Linked DNA regions of Homo sapiens: region 1 is linked to region 2. A link means that fine-mapping ties the variant in region 2 to the expression of a gene that starts in the linked region. Tissue or cell type: blood mononuclear cells. Region 2 holds a variant in brackets; the other region holds the start of a gene. All regions are shown on one strand. Distances are from middle to middle.

Region 1 (8,000 bases), 120 kb before region 2:
TGTGGTTTTGATTTGCATTTGTCTAATGACCAGCGATGATGAGCTTTTCCTCATATGTCTGTTGGCTGCATACTACCATTTGACCCAGCAATCCCATTACTGGGTATATACCCAAAGGATTATAAATCATTCCACTATAAAGACACATGCGCACGTATGTTTATTGCAGCACTATTCACGATAGCAAAGCCTTGGAACCAACCCAAATGCCCATCAATGATAGACTGGATAAAGAAAATGTGGCACATATACACTACAGAACACTATGCAGCCATAAAAAAGGATGAGTTCTTGTCCTTTGCAGGGACATGGATGAAGCTGGAAACCATCATTTTCAGCAAACTAACACAGGAACAGAAAACCAAACACCACATGTTCTCACTCATAAGAGGGAGTTGAACAATGAAAACGCATGGACCCGGGAAGGGGAACATCAAACACCAGGGCCTGTCAGTGGGTGGGGGGCTGGGGAGGAATAGCATTAGGAGAAATACCTAATGTAGATGACCAGTTAATGGGTGCAGTGAACCACCATGGCACATGTATACCTATGTGACAAACCTGCACGTTCTGCACGTGTATTCCAGAACTTAAAGTATAATTAAAAACAAACAAACAAACAGCAACAACAAAAAACCTCTGGTCTCCAGCACAGCCGACTCTGCGTGAATTACTCTTTCTCTATTGCAATTCCCCTGTCTTGATGAATCGGCTCTTTCTAGGCAGTGGGCAAGGTGAACCCCTTGGGCGATAAATAGCAATAAACTGCTTGGAGAAGTGCAGGAAAATAGCCCAGAGAAGGTGGCATTTCAGTTAGCCTTTAAAATCAGGCAGGATGGCCCGGCACAGTGGCTCATGCCTATAATCCTAGCACTTTGGGAGGCTGGTGGGAAGGTCACCTGAGGTCAGGAGTTCAAGACCAGCCTGACCAACATGGTGAGATCCCTGTCTCTACTAAAAATACAAAAAAATTAGCCAGGCCTGGTGGCACATGCCTGTAATCCCAGCCACCCAGAAGGCTGAGGCAGGAGAATTGCTGGAACCCGGGAGGCAGAAGCTGCAGTGAGCCAAGATCATGCCACTGCACTCCAGCCTGGCTGATAGAGGAGACTCTGTCTCAAAAAATAATTAATTAATTAATTAATTAAAATCAGGCAAGAATAATACCAATGCATATTAAAAGGCAACAATAATCATGACAGCTAACATATTAATCTTCATAGCTGACAGTATTCTTTCATGCATTTTATCAATTCAAGTTCATCTCCTTTTTATATTGCTGCTGACCTTTAGGAAGTGTTTATCACACCAGTGCTACTCCAAGTGTGGTTTGCTAACTGGGCACGATCTTGGCTCACTGCAGCCTCCGCCTCCCAGGTTCAAGCAATTCTCCCACCTCAGCCTCCCAAGTAGCTGGGATTACAGGCACCTGCCAACACACCCGGCTAATTTTTGTATTTTTAGTAGAGACAGGGTTTCGCCATGTTGGCCAGGCTGGTCTTCAACTCCTGGCCTCAAGTGATCCACCCACCTCACCCTCCAAAAGTTCTGGGATGATAGACGTGAGCCACTGCACCTGGCTTCATTTGTATTATTGTATTTCATCAAAGTATCAGGCTTCAATGGGTTGAAAGCATACACACACACACACAGGTGGATCTTCCCCGCCAAACCTTTGAGAAGCACTGGCCCCAAAGCACCAAAACAGACAGAAGGCATGAAAGAGGTAAGTGTGGAGAGCTAGAAGAGAAAAGTGTGGAGAGCTAGAAGAGAAAGCTCACACTTAATAGTTCCCACCTGTAATAAGTGCTTTCAGTAAATTTTATTTAATCCTCCCAATAACCCAATGAGATTGGTGTTATTATCTAAATTTTACAAAAGAGGGACAGCAAATTCAGAGACGATAAGGAGCTTGCCCAAACATGGCCAAGAATCAAACCAAGGTTTGTCAGAATTCTGTTTTTCTGAAATATTTATGCTGAATTAGTTGCCATATGAGTGCCCTTTTCTCCTTGATCAATATCTAAAAAATTACAGTTTATCTGGAACCAGTTGCTCCTGGGCTCACAGTCATGGACATGTCCTCAGGATGTGGCTCACCAATTTTTCCCTAAGTTAGGAAAAAGGATCTGTCTTCTTACCCAGTGGAGCATGGTGTGTGTCATATGTCAAAAGGTTAAAACAATAACAGCAAACCAGTTCCCATTTCCTGTTCAAATATACCTACCTATACACACACCGCCCCCTACACACACCTCTTATCAGGCAAGAAAAATAAATCATGCTCTCTCACTGTCACTGGAACAATAGCATCAGGTATTTTCCTAACTCGAATTTTCTTTTCTTTTCTTTATGTTAAGGTGCTTTTTTATCTTAAAGTTACAAATTTGTGTTACTGACATGGATCTTGGAAACTTTACATAATAGAAATTTTAATGTTATTTATTTTTTCTTTTTTTTAAGTGTCAGGGTCTTGCTCTGATACACACACTGGAGTGCGGTGGTGCAATCATAGCTCACTGTAACCTTGAATTCCTGGGCTCAAGTGATCCTTCCACCTCAGCCTCTCAAGTAGCTGAGACTACAGGTATGCACAACCATACCTGGGTAATTAATTTTGTTTTTTTTTTGTAGAGACAGGGTCTTGCTATGTTGCCCAGGCTGGCATTGAACTCTTGGCCTCAAGCAGTCCTCCCACCCTAACTTCCCAAAGAACTGGGATTACATTATTTCATTTAAGCCACGCAACATCCCTATGAAGTAGAAATTATTATTCCTGTTTTATCGATAGGAAAGGGAGGCCAAGAGAAATAACTAGCATAAGGTTGCAAAATTAGCAAACGACAGAATTGAGATAGAAATTGCATGTTTGACTGAGAAGCCCGTGCAAACTCTTGATATTCTATTTAGTAGTTATAAGATTAAAACATGAGCAACAGACACCTTTTAATCTCATTAACTCTGGGACTTCTGTTGAATGATTTATGTATTTTATGCAGAATAAGGCTCTTAGAATCACAGTCACCTAGAACTATGTCTGCCTTGGTCTACATGTCTATTGTGGCCTATTTAAAAAATTAAGAAACTTAAATAATTTCTTTTGGCAAAAGAGTCACCTAACATCTGTCTCATGCAGATTCAGAGCTGGTCTGCTCCCGGATGTTCAAGGGAGTTGGGCAACTATTCTCTTTCTGGAGTGGGGCTGAGTATGGCCAGGGTTTAAGGGCTACCTAACTTTCTAGGCAGATTACTTCATCTTTCTATACTTAAGCTTTCTCATTTGTAAGTTGAAAATAATACCAAACTCCAGGGTTTTGTGAGGATAAAGTGTTTGGCACAATGTAAAGCACAGAATAAATGCTCAACACACATGAATACTGCCATAAACATTACTTCGCCTTCCTGCAGACCAACTCCGACTCTGCATGAAACAGAAAATCAGAACATTTATTTGGTACTAATCAAATTTCTTTTCATAATCTTTTACGGATAGACAATACCATTGTATCCCCATTTTAAGAGGCAGTCTTTCAGTCTTTTCAAAGCATAACTTTGAAGCCAGAATTGCCTCGGTTAGATTTCTTCTTATTATTATTATGATGATTTGAGACGGAGTCTCGCTCTTGTTGCCCAGGCTGGAATGCAATGGCACTAACTCCGCTCACCCGAACTCGGCTTACAGCAACCTCCGCCTCCCGGGTTCGAGCGATTCTCCTGCCTCAGCCTCCGAAGTAGCTAGGATTACAGGCATGCACCACCACGCCCGGCTAATTTTGTATTTTTAGTAGAGACGGGGTTTCTTCATGTTGGTCAGGCTGGTCTGGAACTCCTGACCTCAGGTGATCTGCCCGCCTCGGCCTCCCAAAGTGCTGGGATTACAGGCATGAGCCACGGTGCCCGGCTCTTCTTATACTTATTATTTGCTTGCCTTAGACAAGTAACTTCACCTCTCCAAGCCTGCATTCTAATGCAAAACGAACACCAATACCTATTTTATGAATTATTGTAATAATTAAACGAGGTAATACCATACCTGAAGTATCTTTAATGCAGCAGATGTCAAAAGTGGTAGCCGCAATTATTTTTATTTTGTAAGGGAGGATTAAACACATTTAAATAGGACATCACAGGAGCGGAGCTGGATCCCAGGTCAGCCTGATTCCTAGGCCGGCGTTCCTTATTGATTACAACATAAGGCAAACAAGTCGTCTTTGGAGAGAGAGGTTGGGGAGAGAAGAATGTTTAATTTCTCCATGCCCTTCAATGACATGTATAACCTTCACTGTTGACCATTTGGCCAGATTGTTGAATTATGTTTTGCTCTCTGGCAACTTGGGGTGTGGAACGTACAATAAAAACGCCTTCACACTAATAACCTCCAGGCCTGTCCCCAGGATTCTACAGCATGAGCTTTGTGGGTAAAGAGAGCTCACCAAATTCAGCCTCCAGCAGCACACACAGCTCAGTAGCAGCGCCCCGCCCAGATGTTTATATTTTCCTCCATCGGCCCCGCCCCCCGACCATGAGGGGCTCTAGCCACGCCCCCAAGCTCAAGTTTCTGGGGCCGGACTAGCCCAGCGCGTCTGCCTACCCATAGGGATTCCCTCTCCAGCCAATCCAGTCAGAGCAGCGGAGCTGCCCCGAACAAAGATGGCGCGGGAAGCGTCTGTGAGGGCAGACTGATCCGAGCACCCAAACCCTCGGCGGACAGCGGAGCCAGTGGTAGCCGCACGGCCCTAAAACCATGGAGGAGGGCGGCAGCACTGGCAGTGCTGGCAGTGACAGCAGCACCAGCGGGAGTGGCGGGGCGCAGCAAAGGGAGCTGGAGCGCATGGCTGAGGTCTTGGTCACCGGGGAACAGCTACGGTAAGGCAAGAGACACAGCGGGTGAGCTCACGATGGCACTGCCAACGCGTGCCCGCTGCAGTCCTGCGCGCACGCGCTCCCTGGCTCGTGGCTTGCGACTCGCGTGGGGCGCCGGAACGGCTGCGGGCGCGTGGATGGTCCTCGGTGCGCCCGCGCTTAGCTGCTGCAGCCTCGGTCCCTGAGGACTCGCTCGCCAAGCGGGGCTGCCTGGCAGAAGCCGACGAGCGGGTGGTGCGCGCTGCGCCCTAGCCTGGCTGCTGCAGTCCTGTGCCGGGCAAAGTCCCTGCCACCCACCGCGCTGTCCGTCTTCCCGTGTACCTGGACGCCGCCAGGCCTCCCGGCTGACAGCCTGCGCCTCATCCGCGAAGAGAGCAAGAGGGGTCGCTGTGGGGTCCCGAGGCGACCCCAGCCCCTCTACTCCTTGATAAAAGGAGCAAGACCAACGATAGTCTTCACTAGGTTTTCCTTTTTGCTGACAAGTCTTCCTTCACTCCCCTGAGCCTCGGTGTTTTACATCTGTAAAACAGGGCTGATTCAAGGGCTTTTTGTGAGGTTAAACTGAGAGAGCATTTCTGAAACCCTGCACCTATCAGTTAATTGGCACATCGTCCTCAATCATTTGGGTCCGCAAGGGGGCGTGGAGGCACCTTGTCGGGCTGCCTTGAGGCTGTGCCAACTCCCCGGGCTCGCACGTTTTGGGCAGCAGGATCCATGGGGACCCTGGCTCCTGCAAGAATTAAGACTTGCGGCGTCTCACGGAACTTGGGAACAAGGACGACCCCCAGAATCCCCCTTGCCATTCCCATCCCTGTATGGTCCTTCCTCTAGGGCTGTTTGGGAATAGTACTTATGGTCTAACTGGTTCTGCAGCTGCCCTTCGTGTGGTTATAAATCAGTTTGCCAGGAAAAAGAAAACCCAGCTCTGCAGCGTTTGAGCCACAACTTGTACGCGGGCCCCTGTTACTTCTAGTTCTTAGCCTGAATTCCCCAGCTTGTTTTGGTTTCTAAATGTCTGTGTTTCAGGACCTGAAAGAGTGTCTTGCAAAGGTCTCTGAAGGAGACCAATATTGGAAGTCAGAATTAACTGATTTTTAATGTTACAAAAGGCAAATTGCACCTATCGATTCTTTGTTGATTTTTAAAAATACGTGGTCAGAATTAAAGGGAATAAAAACTTTTTTTCCTTCATCAAAAGTACTTTCTAATGAAACCTGTCACGCGGTGCCCGTGTGAAGAGACCACCGAACAAGTTTTGTGTGAGCAATAAAGCTTTTTAATCACCTGGGTGCAGGTGGACTGAGTCTAAAAACGGAGTCAGCAAAGGGAGATGGGGAAGGGGTTGTTTTATAGGAGTTGGGTAGATGATGGATAGTGGTGTAAGTTTGTGAGGTGCAGTCCAAGAAGGCGGGGGTGACTTCATAAAGCCCTGTTGTAAAGAGTAGAGTAAGGAAGAAGAGACCTGATATCCCTTGGAGAATAAATGTTGAAGGAGCAGGAGGGTGTCTTGCTGAGAAGATTCAAAGGAGAGGCTACAAAGTAGAAGGTCATCAATATATTGAATAAGGTGAGAAGCAGAGGGGTAGAAAGAAAGTAAATCATGAGAAAGGGCTTGGCTGAAGTAATGAGGGCTGTTCCTGAAGACTTGCGGCAGTACAGCCCAGGTAAGCTGCTGGGACTGATGGGTGTCAGGGTCAGTCCAGGTAAAAGCAAAGAGAGGCTGGGACGAGGGGTGCAGGGGAATAGTGAAAAAGGCATCTTTAAGATCAAGAATGGAATAGTGAGTTGTGGAGGAAGGTATTGAGGACAAAAGAGTGTACAGGTTTGGCACCACAGGGTGGATAGGCAAAACAATTTGGTTGATAAGGTGCAGAACCTGAACTAACCTGTAAGACTTGTCCAGTTTTGGGACAGGTAAAATGGGGGAATTGTAAGGAGAGTTTGTAGGCTTTAGAAGCCCAAGCTGTAGCAGGCGAGTGATAACAGGCTTCAGTCCCTTTAAAGCCTACTGTGGGAAAGAAAGTTTAATTTCTCTGCTCTTCATTACTGGGCCATCTTTTTAAAAGTCTTCTGTTGGATAGGGTTACTTATTTTTCATTTATTTTACAAATATTAAATTGCATGATGGCTCTTTTTGTCCAGCAAGTACTTTTTCCTTCAAGATGCAGTTTAAATGCCTCTTCCTTGCAGTCCCCAGAGCACTTGTTATTCCCCACTTTTCTAGCGCCTCTCTGCACTGCAGCAGTTTTGAGAGCCATCCTTGTCATGCAGGAATTAGACCTGGGTTTGAATGACTGCTCCACCATTATGTAGGCAAGTGTCAGCATTAAGTTGTTTCAAGGAAGACTTTAAGCTAGACTGAATCTTGGCTTTGCTACTTACTAGTGTGGGACCTTGGACAAGTGATTATGCCCGTAATCCTGGCCCTTTGGGAGACCAAGGCAGGCGGATCCCTTGAGGTCTGGAGTTCAAGACCAGCCTGACCAACATGGTGAAACCTCATCTCTACTAAAAATACAAGAATTAGCCGGGTGTGGTGGTGCATGCTTGTAATCCTAGCTACTTGGGAGGCTGAGGTGAGAGGATTGCTTGAACCTGGGAGGCAGAGGTTGCAGTGAGCCAAGACAGTGCCACTGCACTCCAGCCTGGGCAACAGAGTGAGCCTCCATCTCAAAAAAAAAAAAAGAAGAAGAAGGATGGGTAATAATGGAATTTACCTCATAGTGTTACTATGAGGATTAGATGAGTTGCGCTTAGGGTAGTTTCTGATAGATATGTAGTAAGCACCAGGTCAACATTAGCTAAGGTAGAGTTCTGTGACCTTGGACAAGTAAATTCACTTCTCTGAGTCTCTGTTTCCACATTTGAAAAAGACAATGAAGATGAATGTATTTCATGGAGTTGCGAGAATTTGCCCCTGGGCTTCATGTATTAATGAGCATTCAACAAATAGTTCCTGGAATTAATTAGTATTATTGGTCTCTCTGCATCACTGCATGTGACTTCCAGCCAAGCAAGATTGGGCAGGAAGGATTGGGTGGTGGTGAAGAGCGCAGGATATAGAACTAGGCTGCCTGGGTTCTTATTCTGCCTCCACCATTTATTCTGTAACTTTAGGACAATATGTTTAGCCTCTC
Region 2 (8,396 bases):
GTTATTTTGCCTGTTAGTTGATGCAGTTTCTTCATAGTGTCAATGGTCTTTACAATTTGGTATGTGTTTGCAGTGGCTCGTACTGGTTGTTCCTTTCCATATTTAGTGCTTCCTTCAGGAGCTCTTGTAAGGCAGGCCTGGTGGTGACAAAATCTCTCAACATTTGCTTGTCTGTAAAGGATTTTATTTCTCCTTCACTTATAAGCGTAGTTTGGCCTGCATATGAAATTCTGGATTGAAAATTCTTTTCTTTAAGAATGTTGAATTTTGCCCCCACTCTCTTCTGTCTTGTAGAGTTTCTTCTGAGAGATCTGCTCTTAGTCTGATGGGCTTCCCTTTGTGGGTAACCCGACCTTTCTCTCTGGCTGCCCTTAATATTTTTTCCTTCATTTCAACCTTGGTGAATCTGATGATTATGTGTCTTGGGGTTGCTCTTCTCGAGGAGTATCTTCGTTGTGTTCTCTGTGTTTCCTGAATTTGAATGTTGGCCTGTCTTGGTAGGTTGGGGAAGTTCTCCTGGATAATATCCTGAAGAGTGATTTCTAACATGGTTCCATTCTCCCTGTCACTTTCAGGTACACCAATCAAACATAGGTTTGGTCTTTTCACATAGCCCCATATTTCTTGGAGGCTATGTTTGTTCCTTTTCATTCTTTTTTCTCTAATCTTGTCTTCATGCTTCATTTCATTAAGTTGATCTTCAATCTCTGATATCCTTTCTTCTGCTTGATCGATTCAGCTATTGATACTTGTGTATGCTTCACAAAGTTCTCATGCTGTGATTTTTCAGCTTTATCAGGTTATATATATTCTTCTCGAAACTGGTTATTCTAGTTAGCAATTCCTCTAACATTTTTTTCAAGGTTCTTAGCTTCTTTCACTGGGTCAGAACATGCTCTGTTAGCTCAGAGGAGTTTATTATTATCCATCTTCTGAAGCCTACTTCTGTCAATTTGTCAAACTCATTCTCCATCCAGTTTTGTTCCCTTGCTGGTGAGGAGTTGTGATCCTTTGGAGGAGAAGGGGCATTCTGGTTTTTGGAATTTTCAGTCTTTTTGTGCTGGTTTTTCCTCATCTTTGTGGATATATCTACCTTTGGTCTTTGATGTTGGTGACCTTCGGATAGAGTTTTGTGTGGATGTCCTTTTTGTTGACGTTGATGCTATTCCTCTCTGTTTGCTAGTTTTCCTTCTAAGTCAGACCCCTTTGCTGTAGCTCTGCTGGAGTTTGCTGGAGGTCTACTCCAGACCCTCTTTGCCTGGGTATCACCAGTGGAGGCTACAGAACAGCAAAGATTGCTGCCTGTTCTTTCCGCTAGAAGCTTTGTCCCAGAGGGGCACCTGCCAGATGCCAACCAGAGCTCTCCGGTATGAGATGTCTGTCGACCCCTGCTGGCATATGTCTCCCAGTCAGGAGGCATGGGATTCAGGGACCCACTTGAGGAGGCAGTCTATTCCTTAGCAGAGCTCGAGTGCTGTGCTGGGAGATCCAGTGCTCTCTTTAGAGCTGGCAGACAGGGAGGTTTAGGTCTGCTGAAGCGGCGCCAACAGCTGCCCCTTCCCCCAGGTGCTCTGTCCCAGGGAGAGGGGAGTTTTATCTATAAGTCCCTGACTGGGGCTGCTGCCTTTCTTCAGAGATGCCCTGCCTCTAGAGAGGCAGCCTGGCTACAATGGGTTTGCATAGCTGTGGTGGGCTCTGCCCAGTTCAAACTTGCTGGTGGCCTTGTTTACACTGTGAGGGGAAAACCACCTACTCAAGCCTCAGTAATGGCAGACACCCTTCCCCCCACCAAGCTCGAGTGTCCCAGGTCGACCTCTGACTGCTGTGCTGGCAGTGAGAATTTAAAGCCAGTAGATCTTAGCTTGCTGGGCTCCATTGGGTTGGGAACTGCTGAGCTAGACCACTTGTCTCCCTGGCTTCAGCCCCCTTTCCAGGGGAGTGAACAGTTCTGTCTCGCTGGTGTTCCAGGCACCACTGGGGTATGAAAAAAACCTCCTGCGGCTAGCTCAGTGCCTGCCCAAATGGCTGCCCAGTTTTGTGCTTGAAACCCTGGTGGTGTAGGCACCCGAGGGAATCTCCTGGTCTGCGGGTTGTGAAGACTGTGGGAAAAGCATTGTATCTGGGCTGGAATGCACTGTTCCTCATGGCAGAGTCCCTTAGGGCTTCCGTTGGCTAAGGAAGGGAGTTCCCTGACCCCTTGTGCTTCCTGGGTGAGGCAATGTCCCACTCTGCTTCTGCTCGCCCTCCATGGGCTACACCCACTATCTAACCAGTCCCAATGAGATGAACCGGGTACCTCAGTTGGAAATGCAGAAATCACCCACCTTCTGCGTTGATCTCACTGGGAGTTGCAGACCAGAGCTGTTCCTGTTCGGCCATCTTGCCCAGGTCTAAATTTTATTTTACAAATATTTTTTTGAGATGGAGTCTTGCTCTGTTGCCCAGGCTGGAGTGCAGTGGTGTGATCTTGGTTCACTGTAACCTCTGCCTCCTAGGTTCAAGTGATTCTCCTGCCTCAGCCTCCCGAGTAGCTGGGATTACAGGTGTGTACCACCATGCCTGGCTAATTTTTGTATTTTTAGTAGAGATGGGGTTTCACCATTTTGGACAGGCTGATCTTGAATTCCTGACCTCAAGCGAACTGCCCGCCTCGGGTCCCCAAAGTGCTGGGATTACAGGTGTGAACCACCGTGTCCGGCCTACTAGGCCTTTTACATATGTTGTTTCATTGTTCCTCCAATTCATTTTATAGATGAAGAAAACTAAAATTCAGAGCAGTTAAGTAATTAAGTAAATCGTTAAACTGGCATTCAACCCTGGGCTATCTGAGATCAGAGCAATGTTTTCTGTGCTATAGCCATATCCTTTTTTTTTTCTTTTTTTTTTTTTTTTTTTTTTAATAGAGATGGGGCTTTACCATGTTGCCCAGGCTAGTCTCAAACTCCTGAGCTCAAGTAATCTGCCTACCTTGGACTCCCAAAGTGCTAGGATTACATATATGAGCCATCGTGCCTGGCTGCCACATTCTTTTGGTAAGCAATTCCAAAGTAATTAGCATTTTATGGTGGTGAATATTTCTTTAAAAATTATTTTAAATAAATAGAGACAAGGTCTTACTATGTTGCTCAGGTTAGTGTCAAACTCATGGGCTCAAGTGACCCTTGTGCCTTGGCCTCCTAAAATATTAGGATTACAGGCAGGAGCCACCGTGCCGGGCCATTGGTTAAGAATTTTATGGAAAACATTTCCAGCCAAATTACCGTCTGTAACCTGGAAACAGGAATAAATGTGGGCAAAGCAGACTCCACTCTCTTGTTTTGCAAGCTTGTCTGCCTCCTCGTTTCCATGATCACACCTTGAAATGGGAGGCAGTCTAGTGTGGAGGTTCAGGGGTGAGACCTGGAGTGAGTCCGTCAGCACTTCTCTCTTGGATCTTCTTGTTAGTGACTCTGAGATACATGGGCAAGTTTGCCTTGTCTAAGCCCCAGTTTCCTTATCTGTAAACTGGGAATCATAATATGGGAATATAATATATATGGGAATATAATAACTCTCTCATAGTACTGTTTTGAGAAGTAAATGATATAAACCTGTAATGTGCTTGGCACAGGGCCGTGCACAGGCTATCTATCACTCAGTAAATGATAATTATCATTATTTTTATCATCTACATTCTCATTATCAGATGCCTGAGTGGGTGAAGCTTAATGTATTTGATGACCTCATCCATTGCTGGTCTTGAACAGTATCTTATACATACTCTCTGCTATTACGTGCTTGTTAAGTAAATCAACACTGAAATACTTTGATCGGGCCTTTGGGTTTAATTATTTTGCCAATAATTTCAAAAGATCTAGAATAGAGTTACAGATTTCTTTTGTTGAATTATGTATCTGAGATATTCCATTTGCCGGATGAAATAATTTTGTTTTTAGGCTTCTCTGCACTTACAGTACAATCTAGTTTCTGATAAACAAGATTATCTTTGAAAATCCTACCCCTTGTTCTGCATGTTATCACTAACAGTAGAGGTTCTTTCTAGTCTTTGGAATGTACCCAGCTATTATTTTTATTTGTTTATTTAGTTTTTTTTTGAGACGGAGTCTCACTCTGTCGCCCAGGCTGGAGTGCAGTGGCGCATCTCTGCTCACTGCAAGCTCCGCCTCCCAGGTTCACGCCATTCTCCTGCCTCAGCCTCCCGAGTAGCTGGGACTACAGGCGCCCACCACCATGCCCAGCTAACTTTTTGTATTTTTAGTAGAGACGGGGTTTCATCGTGTTAGTCGGGATGGTCTCAATCTCCTGACCTGGTGATCCGCCCGCCTCAGCCTCCCAAAGTGCGGGATTACAGGCGTGAGCCACCATGCCCGGCCACCCCAGCTATCGTTTAATGATACATACAGAAGAATAAAACATAGTTTGACTTTCCATCTGTTTATTGCCTTTACATTTCTGGCAGTAAGACACAGAAGCTGCAGCACTCAGACAATCACAGTGTCATGTTTGGTTTTCTATCTTTACTAAAGTTACTTTGAATCCTTTTACTTCTTTTCCATCCTCTTGCCTCCCTTCAATCAATTAAATAAGTGTAAGTGGGTTATAACTTTGTGAATGTGAAGTATTTTGTTTCAGTAATATCAGTTAATAGGACTTTATGTCCTACAATCAATTTCCTGCTTTCATATC[C/T]TCTTGTTAATGTTGTCAGTGCTAAGGAAGTAATTATTTTAGTCCTCTGACTCACTGTTGTTATTGCCTTTTGGAGAGTTTTGTATCCCAAGCAGCTAGCACCGTTTTTATGGAGTAGGCACTTAAAAACAATTGCTTACTGTTTTGAAAAGTCGATTCAAGGACTTTTGCTGCTTTAGGAAATAGGGCTCCTTCAACTATTGCTTCCATTTAGGATGGCTTGAGATGGTTGAGATGGCCTTAAGTACAGCTCGGGTTTTCTTTTCTTTCTTTCTTTCTTTCTTTCTTTCTTTCTTTCTTTCTTTCTTTCTTTCTTTCTTTTTCTTTCTTTCTTTCTTTCTTTCTTTCTTTTTTTTTTAAATCTTTTATTCTTGGTTTGGGGGTACATGCGAAGGTTTGTTATGTAAGTAAACATGTATTACGGGGGGTTATTGTACATATTATTTCATCACCCAGGATATTAAGCCCAGTGCCCAATAGTTATCTTTTCTTCTCCTCTCCTCCTCCCACCTCCACCTTACCCCTCATGTAGGCCCCAGGGCCTGGTCTTTTTTTGTTGTTTTTTGAAACAGTGTCTCGCTCTGTTTCCCAGGCTGGAGTGCAGTGGCACAATCTTGGCTCACTGCAACCTCCTCCTCCCGGGTTCAAGTGATTCTTGTGCTTCAGCCTCCCAAGCAGCTGGGATTACAGGCGTGTGCCACCACACCGGGCTAATCTTTTTTCATTTTTAATGGAGACGGGGTTTTGCTGAGTTGGCCAGGCTGGTCTCGAACTCCTGGCCTCAAGTGGTCTGCCTGCCTCAGCCTCCCAAAGTGGTGAGATTACAGGCATGAGCCACTACGCTTGGCTTGGCTATTGTTTCCTTCTTTGCATTCATAAGTTCCTAACATTTAGCTCCCATTTACAAGTGAGAACACGAGGTATTTGGTTTTCTGTTCCTGCATAAGTGTACTAAGGTTAATAGCCTCCAGTCAGATTTTCTTTAAAAAAAAATAGCTTCAACTTTTCTATTGTAACTAATTCTTAAATAAGGTTTTTCTACAAATGCATGATTAAAAAGCATGTTATGAATATTTCTTCAGTCTTGACCATTTTTAAATTATGAAATATACTAAATGATATCAGATGCTTGGACTCTGTCAGACTGTGATCTAGCAGGACCCAGAAGACAAAATACTGCAAATCTATCCCTGGATGTGTGAAAGAAGTTAAAGCTTAAGTCTTGCTGGCAGGGAAACCACAGTACTTTTGTATGCAGAATTTACTCACCTTCTAGAAACACCAAGTCTAAGGAATAGGTCTACCATCCATTTATCCTTGCAGTTTATCTGTGATTTTGAGCAATGTCTATCAGGGCTAGTCTATCAGAGATCAGTAGTAGCTAAGAAAATAAGAGGAAAAGGAGTGAATGGTTGGATAGAGTGCCATCCTTGGTGACCAAAAAAATGATCCTTCACAGAAGCCCCAGCCACCCTTGTGCACTTGGTGAAGCAGTGAGCTGGCAGCTAGTGAGGGTCTTATGTCTTTAAGGTGATCTTGATGACCTCTGTAACTTTGACACTGGTTTGCAGTTAGCCCCATCTTGCTGACCTTCTTCTTCCTCAGTAGGATAATCATCATCTTTATTCCCTCTCTGTTTAAGTCTGTTTTCAGTCTACTAAGTTGTTTACGTGACCGTAAGTCCAAGACCACCTTTTAAAAATTTTTGATGATGTGTCATCCAGGGCACAGTTGATGTCTGCGCATTCCCTATATGGTGCTATCGTAGTGCTGGATTCAGTTCACATGCTTCATGATGCCTGTTGTGTTATATCATTTATGAGCAAGCATTTCAAGGATGAATGAAAGTATGTGACCTTCCTCCTTCCAACTAGATAAGTAGAGTAAATTTTTTTTTTTTTTTTTTTGAGACAGAGTCTTACTCTATGCCCAGGCTGGAGTGCAGTGGCATGATCTTGGCTCACTACAACCTCTGCTTCCTGGGTTCAAGTGATTCTCGTGCCTCAGTCTCCCAAGTAGCTGGAATTACAGGTGCGCACCACCATGCCTGGCTAATTTTTATGTTTTTACCTGAGACAGGGTTTCACCATGTTGGCCAGGCTAGTTTCGAACTCCTGACCCCAGGTGACCCACCTGCCTCGGCCTCCCAAAGTGCTGAGATTACAGGTGTGAGCCACTGCGCCCAACGAAAATAGTTTTATATTCAGGAGAACCTGTAGAATTCAAGATGATACATTTTTATATTCATCCTTGGACTACATGCATGAGTTGAATGGGAGCCAATTTCCCCCCTTTTAAGTAATCAGCTTCTATTATTTCTTTGTCTGCTAAAATCATCCTAATAATATATAAGGGAGGAAAATGTAGTCACGTTATCCCCAGAAAGAAGAATATATCTGTACCATGTCACTTTATTATTTTGGTAAACTACATGACATTTCCCTCATGATTTCTGCAGTTAAACCTAACGGTGTATAGGGATCTGTTTTTCTTTGACCAAATAGTGAATTGAGTGCTTCTAAAGTTCCAACTTTCCTAAACAGAGATCCTGTTGTATTTATGTGGCTCTAGCTTTCTGGCTACATCTGCTTTTCTTCCTAGTTTAAATCCCATTTAATACGAAGTCAAGACAAGGCCCTAGAGAATTCTACCAAAGCAAAAGGGAAGGCTTGGAAAGTCCCAGAAATTATCAATTGGATGAGTAACAAATTGTCAGTTTTCAATTACAACTGGTAAGATCACAACTGGAACATTAGATATTGAATGTAGATGTTGAACACTGCCTCTTTGAATCTTTGTCCTGTTTACAGATAAATAGTTCCAAGGAGCAAAAAATGAAATTTATCAAATGGTATGTATTATATTTACTATAATACGAAGGTCCTGTATATCACTGGGATCTGAGAAATGTAGAATTGGAACAAATTTAAGACTTACAGGCACAAACTGTTCCCCATGCTTTTTTCTTCCTTCTCTTTACTTTTTTTTCCATATCATGGATTTTTTTTTTTCTGTGTTTAACAAAAAGTAAGTTGTTTATGTAGCAAGGATTTTTATATTCAGTATGGAGTATTGCATGTTAATGTGTAGGAAAAAATCAGGCTGAGGCCGGGTGCGGTGGCTCACACCTGTAATCCTAGCACTTTGGGAGACTGAGGCAGGTAGATTACCTGAGGTCAGGAGTTTGAGATCAGCCTGGCTAACACGGTGAAAACCCATCTCTACTAAAAATACAAAATTAGTGGGGTGTGGTGGCAGGTGCCTGTAATCCCAGCTACTCGGGAGGCTGACGCAGGAGGTGGAGGTTGCAGTAATCTGAGATCGCACCATTGCACTCCAGCCTGGGCAACGGAGCAAAAACTCCATCTCGAAAAAAAAAAGAAAAAGAAAAAAAAAATCAGGCTGAGCGTGTTGGCTCATGCCTGTAATCCCAGCTACTTGGGAGGCAGAGGCAGGGCAATCGCTTGAACCCTGGAGGCGTAAGTTGCAGTGAGCCAAAATCGCACCACTCTGGATGACAGAGCAAGACTGTCCCAAAAAGGTGTACAAAAAAAATCAACTTTTCTCCCTCTGGAATACAAACTCTATGTCATTTAGCTGTTGTTAATTCTTGAGCCTCTACTTATATAATTTATGACTATAAAAACGATCTTTGACTTTCATAATCTAGTTACTTCCCAAACCTTACTGTGTCTTAATACACTGCTTTA

What was found. PIP is the estimated chance that this variant, and not a neighbour inherited with it, causes the effect.
Region 1: DEPTOR starts here. The variant in region 2 is fine-mapped to the expression of DEPTOR in blood mononuclear cells (TOPMed, PIP 0.98).

The regions. Positions count from the first base shown.
Region 1 is chr8:119,869,103-119,877,102 of GRCh38, forward strand. It overlaps DEPTOR (DEP domain containing MTOR interacting protein), which reads left to right and starts at 4,620. Exons shown (of 9, transcript NM_022783.4): 1 at 4,620-4,866. The coding sequence starts at 4,745. RefSeq lists enhancers at 4,447-4,741, 4,482-4,982, 4,658-4,917, 4,983-5,483, 5,118-5,217 and 1 more and a silencer at 4,466-4,638.
Region 2 is chr8:119,986,083-119,994,478 of GRCh38, forward strand. All of the region lies in intron 4 of DEPTOR (DEP domain containing MTOR interacting protein), which reads left to right. Among named protein-coding and RNA genes, the nearest start is that of DEPTOR, 120 kb to the left of the region's middle. The variant C/T (reference allele first, on the strand shown) is at 4,687.